Linked DNA regions of Homo sapiens: region 2 is linked to region 1. The links come from fine-mapping of genetic effects on plasma protein levels. A gene starts in region 1. The other region holds a variant in brackets. All regions are shown on one strand. Distances are from middle to middle.

Region 1 (8,452 bases):
TGCCTTGGCTTCTCAAAGTGCTAGGGTTACAGGTGTGCGCCACCGTGCCCAATCAAAAAATTTTTAAAATCTCGTGTGGATATTCATGATGGGGGGAAGACCTGCTCAAGCCACCTGAGGCAGAGTTATTCATCCCAGCAAGGAAGTCAACTGGGAGGCTTCCCCTGAAAGGGACACCGATGTCTGGGTTCCCTGGGCACCTTCCCACCAACACTAGATCAGTTGACAAAAGGTGGTCTCTCCGCTAGAGTAGAAGGAATCAAAGTCACTAGGTTATTTGGACAAAACCAGCAGAAACTGCAGGGAAAACAAGCCCAACAGCGGATTTCCTGAAGCCCTCATTCCTCCCCCATTCCGAGGAAGAAATCTACAAGTATAGAGGGAAAAAATAAAAACTTTCAAATTTTAGCAACAAATGGCTTTGGTGCGTTTGCATTCTCGCCAGTCTTCAAGGAGTAGATAATTTTTATGCTTCATAAACAGTTACAGAGCACAACAGGAAGAAAGACCTGCCAGTTTTGTTTCCAAATCCGGTTTACCTCTGATACTGGCCCCATCTCTGTCACCTTGCACTGCTGGCTCTATGCCACCTGCAGACTCTCGCGGCCTCTCTCTCCCTCTCTCACGCAGCACCCCTCACAAAATCTGGGACTTGGCACTCTCGGTCCCCCACAGGGATCAGCATTTGGATGAGAAAATACCAGGCTCGAGCTGCTCTTAACCACGTTTATTGAGAGGGGCCGGGGGAAGGGGATGGACGGTCCTCCCCGCGGCGGGGTTTTCAGCCCTCGCGGGTGGGCAGCGTCTTGTCCTCAGGTGTAGATGCTCCAGTCTCGGCTCAGCCAAACACTGTCAGGGCCCCCTGGAAAGCAGAAGCCGAGCTTGAGTGCCCCCAGCCCTGCCACCAAGAACTCAGGCGGGGGCGCGGCAGCGGCCGGCTCTGTGGGGAGCGGGAGCGGGGCGGTTCCGCTGGCGTCTCCGGGGGACGCGCACCCGCGCGGGGCCATCTCCGCCTTCCCCGCCCCTGCAGCTCGGATGCGCCCCACCCAGTTCCCACCCGGAGACCCGGGCTTCTCCCAGGGACAGGGCTTGGAGGGGCAGGACGGGAAACAGCCCTGACGTAGGGCCGGGACACCTCTGGTGCAGTTTTGAGGCTGGCCGGGAAGGGATGCCCGCGCAGGAAGGGCACCCGGGGTGCCCACTTTACCAGCAGGGCCTTCAGGGCCTTCACGGCCCCCACGGCCTGGGGACCCAGCTCAGCCACACACTTCTGGGAGCCCTCTATGAGGTGGTTCACGGGGATGCCCAGGCTGCTCAGCAGGAGCTTCAGCGGGTTGAGGGTGCCGAGGGGGTTGGCCAGGGTCCCGGCCCCGGCCTCCGCCGCCGACTCCAGCGCAGCGACAGGCTGGGCCACAGGCTTGGCCGAGCCCACTAAGAAAGCAGCAGCTGCAAGCGAACAGGGAGGGGTCACCGCCTGCGCGCCGGGGTCCCCAGAAGGCAGGTCCAGGACGCGCCCCCGCGGGAGGCGCCCAGGAACCGTCGCGCCCTGCCCGGCTCCCCGACCGCCCCTCCCTCCTGCGCCGAGGCCTGCCAGGTGCGAGCCCCCGGGACACAGGCGGGTCTGGGGAGGCGGCCCCGCCAGGAGACGCTGCAGGGTCACCGGAGTGGCCTGAGGGTGGCGGAAGGACCGGTGAACTCTGTGCAGGGTCCGGGACAGGCCCCCAAGGGAGGGGACACTCGCGCTGCGCCTTGCAGGATGAGGAGCCGGTCTCCAGACGGGGGGCAGACGGGTGTCCCCAGGCCAGGGGCGGCCTCCATCCCGGCACGAGGCTGGAGACAGCCCTGAGAGGGGGAGGCCGCGGGCTGCAGGCGCGGGGCCCCGGGGTGGCGGAGCCCTCTGGGCGCCGGGCGAGGCTGGAAGGACCTGGGATCCACGATCGGCGCAGGCAGCGGCGGGGGCGCAGCGGGCGCCGAGGCCTCAGGCCCCACCGTGCGCGCCAGGAGCCCGGGGCGCTCACCGGAGCTGCAGGACAGGGCCACGCAGAGCCCCAGGAGGGCGGCGAGCTTCATGGCGCGGGGGCTCGGGGCGCGCGGGGAACCTGCGGCTGCCCGGGCAAGGCCACGAGGCTTCTTATACCCGGTCCTCGCCCCTCCAGCGCCGGCCTCGCCCGCGCTCCTGAGAAAGCCCTGCCCGCTCCGCTCACGGCCGTGCCCTGGCCAACTTCCTGCTGCGGCCGGCGGGCCCTGGGAAGCCCGTGCCCCCTTCCCTGCCCGGGCCTCGAGGACTTCCTCTTGGCAGGCGCTGGGGCCCTCTGAGAGCAGGCAGGCCCGGCCTTTGTCTCCGCGAGGCCCACCCCGGCCCGCACCTTCGCTTTGCGGTCTGACCCCACGCGCCCCCCTGCAGGGCTGGGCCCGGGTGAGGGGAGCTTCCCTCGCGCCAGGGCAGGGGCGGGGGCGGCGCAGTTCCTGGCTCCCTGGTCCCTGCCTCTGATCCCAGACCGTGGCAACGTCGGGCACTGGGGGTCCTCGTGGGCGCCTTCTGCGCCTGGGGAGGTGGAGGCGCCAGGGACGATCAGGCCTCACTCCCGGCCGCCTCCCCGGCCGGGCCACAGGCAGCCACAGTGCAAACAGAAGTGGGGCGTTTTTCTGTCTTCGAAACTAGCCTCGACGCCAGTGGATGGGCCTGGTTTGTTCCTGAGTTTCTCTAAATGTCCTCACTCGTCTGTCACCTGCAGAAGTATGACAGATGGAGAGCAAAGCACATTTTGAAAACTTTTGCAAATGATACATAAACTAATTTGCTTTTAGTCCTTCTTCTTTCCTCTATTTTTTGACCCCAGGCATTGAGCACTGAGTGACTCACGTTTTGCTGCGTGGCTGCTCTCAGCTAGGTTGGTGCAAAGTCTCTCTTTTCTTTTGTAAAGTGTAGCTGGCACGCGTGGGAAACAGGCTCCCGGGTGGGAGGACCTGACTCTTCAGGCAGTGTCCTGGAATTCCTTCCCTATGGCTGACAGCACGTCTTAGCCCTCAGCCACCCCGAGCTACTGCGGCCTCCTCCGCACCTGCAGACACTTGTGCCTTTGCCAACTGTTGTGGCCAGGCACACGCATTCACACTGTTTCTGTTCACTTACACTTTTCCTTGACTATTTTGTTTGGGGGATTTTTGCATTATAAATCTGGAGTTTGGTTGTGTTTTGTTGGTCATCATGGAAGTAATTTTAATGGGAAATACGTTTTCTTTTTTAAAAACAGTTTGAAGTTAATTACTTTTTTGGTGGTGGTAAAGACACTGTCTTGCCGTGTTGCCCAGGCTGGTCTCGAACTCCTGAGCTCAAGCAATCCTCCCACCTCAGACTCCCAAGTAGCTGGGACTAGAGGTGTGAGCCACCACACTCAGCGGATTTTGATTTTGTTTTTTGTTTGTTTGTTTTTTGAGACAGTCTCACTCTGTCGCCCAGGCTGGAGTGTAGTGAGGTGATCTTGGTTCACTGCAGCCTCCACCTCCCAGGCTCAAGCAATTCTCCCACCTCAGCCTCCCAAGCAGGTGGGGCTATAGGTGTGCACCACTATGTCCAGCTAATTTTGTTTATTTTTTGTAGAGACAAAGTCTCACTGTGTTGCCCAGACTGGTCTTGAACTCTTAGCCTCAAGTGATACTCTTGCCTCAGCCTCCCAAAGTGCTGGGATTACAGGTGTGAGCCACCACGCCTGGCTTGATTTATTTTTATTTTTTCTAGAGATGGGGTCTCGCTACATTGACCAAGCTGGTCTCAAAATCCTGGCCTGAAGCAATCCTCCCGCCTCAGACTCCCAAGGTGCTGTGATGACACGTGTGAGCCACCCCGCACAGCCCAGCTTCACCATCTTAAGGGCACACTCCATTAGCATTAAGTATATTCTAATGTTGTGCAAACATCACCACAATCCATTTCCAGAACTCTTTTCCTCTTATAAAACTGAAACTCTGAGCCTATTAAACAACTCCCCACTCCCCTCCCCAAGCCCTTGGCACCACCATTCCACTTTCTGTCTCTGAATCTGGCCACTCCCGGCACCTCATATGAGTGGAATCGGGCAGTGTTTGTCTTTTGTGTCTGGCGTATTTCACTTAGCATGATATCCTCCAGGTTCATTCATGACCTTCAGAGTTTCCTTCCTTCTTAGGGTAGGATACTGCTCCATTGCATGGCTGTGCCACGTTTTCTTCACCCATTCACTTCACCCGTGGGTGGACATGTGGGCGCTTGCATGTTTTCACTGCTGTGAGTAATGCGGCCGTGAACACGGCTGTGCAAATGCCTCTTTGGGACCCTGCTGTTGGCTGTTTTGGGTGGCTGCTCAGAGGTAGAATGGCTGGAGCCTGTGGAACTTGCCTGTGTCATTTGTGAGGATCTGCCATCTCTCCCATAGCAGCGGCACCACGCTGCCTTCCCAGCAACAATGCACAAGGATCCCAGTGTGTCCACAACCTCATGATGCTTGTTCTTCTCCTGAGCAGGATCTGGCAGCCTTGGCCCAAGCAATCCCAGTGGGCGCATCTTGGGAGCTGACTTTGGGGCCACCTTTCCCCATGCTGCCTGGGGACCAGAGAACACTGACCGCGGGAAAGACCGATGCTGCCGAGGCCAGGAGGAGGGGGAGGCCGTCATCTGTGGGTCCCCAGCAGCGCTTGGGGTCCTGGCCACTCCAGCGGCCCCTTGCACCTGCCTCCAGGGATCCTTTGTCTTCAAAATAACCTCCCTCCACCTTCCGGCTCATAGTGCCTTGGGTGGATCTGTTCCCATTTCCCACAAGCCTGCAGGGTGGTGACAGGCCCTCATTCCCATGTGCCCCAAGATTTCGGATTCCAAAAATACATCCCCTGGCTCCCCGGAGAAGTGTGTCACGGTGTCTCCGTTTCACCACTGACAGGGCCAAAGGATGTGCTCTCCTCTCCCGAGCTGCCATGGTCAAGGCAAGCCAGGACTCACCTCAGGCTGGCCCAGCCCCTCACCCCACACTGGCTCTGGGGGCCACGGCTGGCGAAGCCTCTGCGGTAGTTGGGGATCAGGCAGGCCGAGGGTCTGGCCTGTGCCGAGACCTGCACAGCTGGGTCAGCGGCTGCCTCTGTATTCATTTCCTGAGGCTGCTGTGACAAGTCACCACATACCTGGTGGCTGAAAACAACACATTTACTCCGCTCGCAGTTCTGGAGCCCAGAAGTGCAGTGTCACGGGGGTGAAGGCGAGGCGTCGGGGGCCGCTCCTCCTCCAGAGGCTGGGCCTTCCCAGGAGCTTATCCACTCCTGGCCTCTCCCTGCTTATGGGGGCTGCCAGGGCCCCTTGGCTGGTGACTGCATCACTCCAGTCTCTGCCTCCTGGTCACATGGCCTCCTCCTCTTCTGTGTGTGTGGGTGTGTGTGTGAGGGTGCGTGGGGTGTGTGTGTGAGGGTTTGTCGGTGTGTGGGTGTGTGTGGGTGTGTGGGTGTGTGTGGGGGTGTGTGTGGGTGTGTGAGGGTTCGTGTGTGGGTGTGTGGGAGTGAGAGGGTATGGGTGTGTGTGAGGGTGTGTGAGGGTATGTGTGGGTGTGTGAGTGTGTGTGGGGTGTGTGTGAGGGTGTGTATGTGTGGGTGTGTATGTGGGTGTGTGTGAGGGTTCATGTGTGGGTGTGTGTGGGTGTGGGGATGTGTGGGGGTGTGTGTGTGGAGGGGTGAGAGTGAATATGCATGCAAGTGTGTAAGATGGACAGTGAATGAGAATGTGCATGTGAAGGAGAGTGAGTGGGTGTGAGCTTGTGGGTGTGTTTGAGTGTGAATGTGTGTACAAGTGTGTGTGTGGATAAGCGTGAGTCAGTCTGTGTGGGAGGGAGAGTGTGGGAGGGAGTGTGTGGGAGGGAGTGTGTGGATATGCATGTGTTTGAATTGTGTGCAAGTGTGTGTGAATGTGTGTGTGAGTGTGGGTGTGTGTGAGTGTGAAAATTCTGCCGCCATCTTATGAGTGTGTGTGTTGTTGCATTTAGGGCTCACCTAGATAACCCAGGACAGTCCCCTCATCTCACAATGACGCCCCCAGTCGGGCTGCCGAGACCGTGCCTGCTGAGCCTAACATTCCAAGGTTCCAGGAGCTGGGGTGTGGACGGACCTGGGGCCTGCCATGCCCTCCAAGTGCTGCCCTGCCCCTTGAAGGCCAGGCCAGGTGAGGCTTCCAGGGTGGGTGTCAGAGTCCGCCCGGCATGGGACAGGGGCGGGTGGGCAGCGCCCTCTCGTCAGCCTGGGCCTTCCCTGCCACTCCTGCTTGCGGCCCTTGCTGGCTCAGGTCTGCCGAGACACTGAGAAAGTGCTTGGCGCTGTCTGCAGACGACACGGTCAGCTTGTTCTGGGCAGTGTTTGCAGGGCATCTTTTGGGCCAAAATAAACACGCACACCTTGCCCACTCCCACGGAATGCAGGAAGAGCTGGAAGGTAAACAAGCACTTTGCGGCTCTGGGGAAGGGGCCAGATATTGAATTTGGGGCCTATTGAAAGACCTCAGGGCCTCGGAGCAGGGTACTCAGCCCCTGGGTGCTCCTGCTGGGGAGCCTAGAGGCTCACGGTGCCTCCGCCCGGCCCACGCTTTGGCGGTGCTTCCGCAGACACCTGTGGAGGGCTGTTCAGGTGGCAGATGCCCACTCTGATGCCCCCACCATGTCCCCATTCTCTCTCTGATGTCCTCTCTCTCTGAGGCCCCTGCTCTCTGTGATGCCCCCTCTCTTTGATATCCCTCTTTCTCTGGTGCCCTCTCTTCCTAATGCCTTGAGTACATAAATTATTAAGCAAACTGGGTTGAACTCCGGATACCCATGCCTCTCTGATGTGGTCACCTGGGCAGGTGAGTGCAGCTCCCCGCCAGAGCAGGCATCTTGGTGACTGTTCATTGCCGGAGTTTTCTGGGGCCCCTCTCTGCCCACCTCTGCTCTCCTGGGATAGCAGCTGGCTGTCAGGTGGTGTCCTGGTGGCTGGGCCCTGGTTAGGTTAGCCCTCCATGCTAGAATGATCTGGGGCTTTGGGAGGGGTCTGTGGTGCTGTTCCAATAGAAGCTGCTCTTCTTTTTATGTCTAGAGCCAAAGGCCGCAGGCGCTGGACCCCGGCCCCGAGGCCCCCTTCCTCACTCCTTCTGAGCAAACTTTCCTACTCGAAGGTGGGGACCGGTGGGCAGCCCTGGTGGTGTCAGCCGGCACCCTGAGTTTCCCGATGGTCCTGGGACCCTTTTTCAAGGGACTTGTGGGGGCTCCTGGCCAGGGCCACCACAGCGGCCAGCAGCAGCGACCCTCCACACCGCCCTGAGTGGGCCCCACAAGGACAGGCACCTCGGCCAGTCCCAGCAGGCACTCTGGGCTTTCTCCTGCGCCAGTAGGAAGTGGTTTGGCTCGGCCCCGTGGGCCCTGGGGCGCTCAGCACCCCCTCCTCAGCCCCCGTCCTCCCTCCTCATGGCTCGGCCCCGTGGGCCCTGGGGCGCTCAGCACCCCCTCCTCAGCCCGCGTCCTCTTTCCTCATAGCTCAGCCCCGTGGGCCCTCGGGCACTGGGCAGTGTCGTGAGCATATCCGAGCGCCCTCTGTGGCACCGTCCCTGGGTCAATATTGATCTGGCTCTCAGCCACTTCCTTTTGCCCCTTCCCTGTCGGCACTCCCACCCACAGGGCCCTGCTGTGCGGAGGGGAGCAGGTGCTGTCGATGTGGTTCCTGCCTTGTGGGTTCAGGGCATTGGTGAAAGTGACAGAAAAGCTGACCCACGTGGCTTTAAGCAAAGACTGAAATTCCAGGAGTGGCTCCGCCTTCAGGGAAAGGTTGATCCAGGCTCAAAGGATGTCACCAGGACCTCATACCTCATTCTTCCCTGCCATCTCTCAGCTCCTTTTTTTTTTTTTGAGATGGAGTCTTGCTCTGTTGCCCAAGGTGGAGTGCAGTGGTGCAATCTCGGCTCACTGCAACCTCTGACCCCAAGTTCAAGCGATTCTCCTGCCTCAGCCTTCTGAGTAGCTGGGATTACAGGCGCCCGACACCATGCCCGCCTAATTTTTGTATTTTCAGTACAGCCAGGGTTTCATCGTGTTAGCCAGGATGGTCTCGATCTCCTGACCTCGTGATCTGCCTGCCTCGGCCTCCCAAAGTGCTGGGATTACAGGCGTGAGCCACCGCGCCCGGCCTCTCAGCTCCCATTTTTTAGAGTTGTCCTCCTTGGAGTGACAGGCTGGCAGCCAGCAGTGCCAAACCTCCGATACCAATTTGGGCCCAGGCACACAAGCGCTGGTGCTATCCCCAGGGCCCTCCCGTGAGGCTTCACCCCACTGCTCCAAGGACCGTGCTGGCCACAGCAGCAGCAGCAGAGGAAACATCGTGTCTCATTAGGTCCCACTTCCCTGCTTCAGTCTGTTCAGTGAGGAAGGAGGCTGAGGAAGGGGTGCTGGCAGGGATTCAGGAGGTGACCCTGGGCAGG
Region 2 (2,976 bases), 27 kb after region 1:
CTCGGATGAGACTGGCTTCCAGCCTCAGTCTCCCTTCCCGAGTTGCCGTCCCACCGGCCCACCCCGAGCTGCTGCTCCTCACCAGCTAGGCTGCCCCTTCCGCCCGCTGACCCCACACCTTTCAGCATTTTCACGGCCACGGTGTCACAGCTGCTGCCCTTGTGGATGCCGAAAGCGGAGGCTTCCACCACCTTCCCGAAGGCGCCGTAGCCGAGCACTCTCCCTGTCGGGGCAGGGGGCCAGTTGCAGGTGAGCTGTACGGGGTGAGCGTGGAGACAGGTGGGCGGCGGGGGAGCCCCGTGCAGAGGTCCAGGAGGACAGGCCTGGCAGCAGGAGGAGCGTGGGGAGCCACAGCGGGAAGACAAGGAGAGGTGGACAGGAGGCCGCGCATCCTCCCGGGTAGGTGTGACAGATACACCCTGCTCAGGGTGGCAGCAGGTGACCTCAGGGAGCCTGGGAACTGGGGACCCTGGCTGAGGTTCTAGGTACCCACGCCCACAGGGACAGGTCAGGCCAGGCGGAACTTCCTGGTGCAAGTTTTGAAAATGGAGGGATTCAGGCACTCCGGCCTGCAGCAGGTGGGTCGGGCAGGAGGTGTGGGTTGGGCAGGCTGGTGCTGGCCTCACCCAGGTGCAGCCGCTCTCGGGGGAATTCCCACTGGCTGGCATCGTAGGACAGGTATTCGCATTGCTCCTCCAGAGGCACCTCCCCGGGGTCCATGATGATGGACAGGTAGCCCGTCTTGATGTCTGCGTGGGCCGGCTGCGGGGAGGGGACAGGGAGGAGTGGGGCAGCTCACTGATTTGGCCATACCACTGTGGCTTGGGCAGAACTTTGCCCAGGACAGATGGCACTTCCTGCGGGG[T/C]TCTCAGTCAAGGAGGGGACAGAAAAAAAGACAGACAACCTCTGCGGGGTTGGAGCCCAGCGTGAAGGGCAGGGAGGCTTCCCAGGAAACAAGGCTGCCAGGTGAACTAGGGCGGGCACCTTATTCTTTATCTTAGGGGCGGCCAGGGTGGGGAAGGCCTGAGAGAGACTCCATCAGGAGCGGGGAGGGACACTCACCCTCCTCATGTTACAGAAGATGAGGAGGAGGAGGACCCAGAAGAAGACAGCGATGACGCCGGTACCGACAAGGATCACGATCTCCATGCTGCCCTTATCCTCGGAGCCTGCGTGGGCAGAAAGGGGCCGGCGTGTGTGTGTGTGTGTGTAAGAGCGTGCACCTGCAGGCAGCACCCCTTCTGGTGGCCACGACTTGCCCAAGGTGGCCACAAGAAAGCGTTAACTGGGGACGGGAAGGGAGTTGAGGGGTGCAGCCTGAGGCCAGACCTTCCACGGCCACGCTGGCGGAGGAGTTGACGCAGCCCTTGGCGTTGCACACGCTGCACAGATAGCGTCCCGCATCCTCCTCGCGCACGCGCTGGATGCTCAGCTTCTGGTTGGAGTCCGCCAAGTCGACTCCTGCAGGGGGTGGGGTGGAGGTGCGGGTCCACCTGGGTTTGGGATCGTCGGCCTCGCGGGCCTCCGGACCTGCCCTTCGCCAGGGCCACCCTCCCTACCAGACTTTTCCTCCAGCAGCCTCTCGTCTTTGTACCACACGATGCTGGGCGCGTGCGCTCCGGCCACCAAGCACTGCATCTCCAGCGAGTCGCTCACGTTCACCAGGAGGTCGGTCAAGTTCTGCGTGAGCCGAGGGGCTTCCAGGGCTGGGGGCAGGGGTCGAGAGGGAGCTAAGTGGAGCTGCACTTAGCAGGAGGACCCTCTTTGGGCTGGGAGCAGAGGTAGAAAAGGATCCCTGGAAGCTGGACTTAGGGGTTGTGCGCCGGGCAGGAGCGCGGCGCGCCTCCGCAGGGGGCGGCGGATAGTCAGGAGGGGTAGCTCCTGCAGGCCAGGGCTGTGAATAGACCTCCCAGGGGCGAGCCACGCCGGGGCAAAGGCAGAGGCAGCTACTGCTAGAAGAGAGCGCGTCCCCGCCCTCCCCGCGGCCAGCCTCACCCTGCACCGACAGGTACTTCTTGTGGCAGTGCTTGTCATGGCTGCGCCGGTCTTGCACTTCGCACACATAGTGGCCCTCGTGCTCGGGCGCGACGCGGGGGATACTCAGGCTGAGCGTGGCGTGGCGCGCCCCAGGTGCCACCTCCTCCAGGCTGGCGGCCAGAGGGGTGGCGAACAGATGCACGTTCTTGCAGTCGAGCAGAAGCGGGTTCCCGTGCGCATCGTGCAGCGTGGACAGGTTGAGGCGGTACCAGCGCAGATGCTCGTACTTGTAGCTGTCGGCTTGGCAGCTCAGGAGCACCGGCTGGCCCTCTAGTAGCTCCTCGGATGGCTTGGATTCGATGGTGAAGCCGTCGGGGATGGCTGTGGAGGGAGGAAGAAGCCCTGTGGCACTGCCCTGGGAGTTTGCTCCCCCATCCACCTGCCGCCCCGGGGTCTCCTCCTGCCTCCCTCCCTCCCTCTCTCCTGGAGGGGCCCCAGCTGGACTGCTTGCCCCCCGCCCCACCAAAAGCCCAGGTCATCAGGAGTTCCTTGTCACCCTCAGTGGGACTTGAGTCCTCATTCTCTCTTGAAGCTTGCCATGCCCCACCCCATGCTCAGCCTGAAATAACGTGTTCCCTGGCTTTTCCCAGTGCCGTGCGCCCACTTCCTCTTGTCTCTCTGGTCACTTCTGGTCAGGCTCCTGTGGCCCCCCAGCCCCCGGGTGTTCTTTTGGGCTCCATCTCTCTGCTGGTGCCCTGATCTACATCTCTCTGCTGGTGCCCTGATCTACATTCTGGGACCCAGTGACGTCTGCTCCTGGGCTCCGCTCTCCTGAGGTCACTACCACATTTGAAAATCTGAGTAAACCACAGAGCTTCTCCCCAGAGCAAAATTCACACGAGTCACAAGGTCTCAGGGCTTGGGAAGGGGAGGGTGGGAGTGGGTATAGCTAGGAGGAGCTGCAGTGAGCCAAGGGCATCCTTGAGGGAGGAGCCCCAG

The links. PIP is the chance, under the fine-mapping model, that this variant and not a neighbour inherited with it causes the effect. The UK Biobank Pharma Proteomics Project read protein levels with antibody pairs (Olink). The fine-mapping took linkage between variants from a reference panel, not from the people measured, so its PIPs are less certain.
Region 2: its variant is fine-mapped to the plasma level of the SCGB3A1 protein (UK Biobank, PIP above 0.99).

The regions. Positions count from the first base shown.
Region 1 is chr5:180,589,393-180,597,844 of GRCh38, forward strand. SCGB3A1 (secretoglobin family 3A member 1) reads right to left here and starts at 2,107. Exons shown (of 3, transcript NM_052863.3): 1 at 2,019-2,107; 2 at 1,208-1,446; 3 at 713-862. The coding sequence starts at 2,070. The coding sequence ends at 839. LOC124901154 (a long non-coding RNA gene) reads left to right here and starts at 3,778. Exons shown (of 2, transcript XR_007059088.1): 1 at 3,778-3,817; 2 at 4,501-4,876. RefSeq lists enhancers at 299-968, 969-1,638, 1,639-2,308 and a silencer at 7,321-7,492.
Region 2 is chr5:180,619,547-180,622,522 of GRCh38, forward strand. FLT4 (fms related receptor tyrosine kinase 4) reads right to left here. Exons shown (of 30, transcript NM_182925.5): 13 at 1,996-2,358; 14 at 1,560-1,706; 15 at 1,330-1,461; 16 at 1,063-1,169; 17 at 627-762; 18 at 119-223. Among named protein-coding and RNA genes, the nearest start is that of FLT4, 29 kb to the right of the region's middle. RefSeq lists an enhancer at 285-1,484. The variant T/C (reference allele first, on the strand shown) is at 866.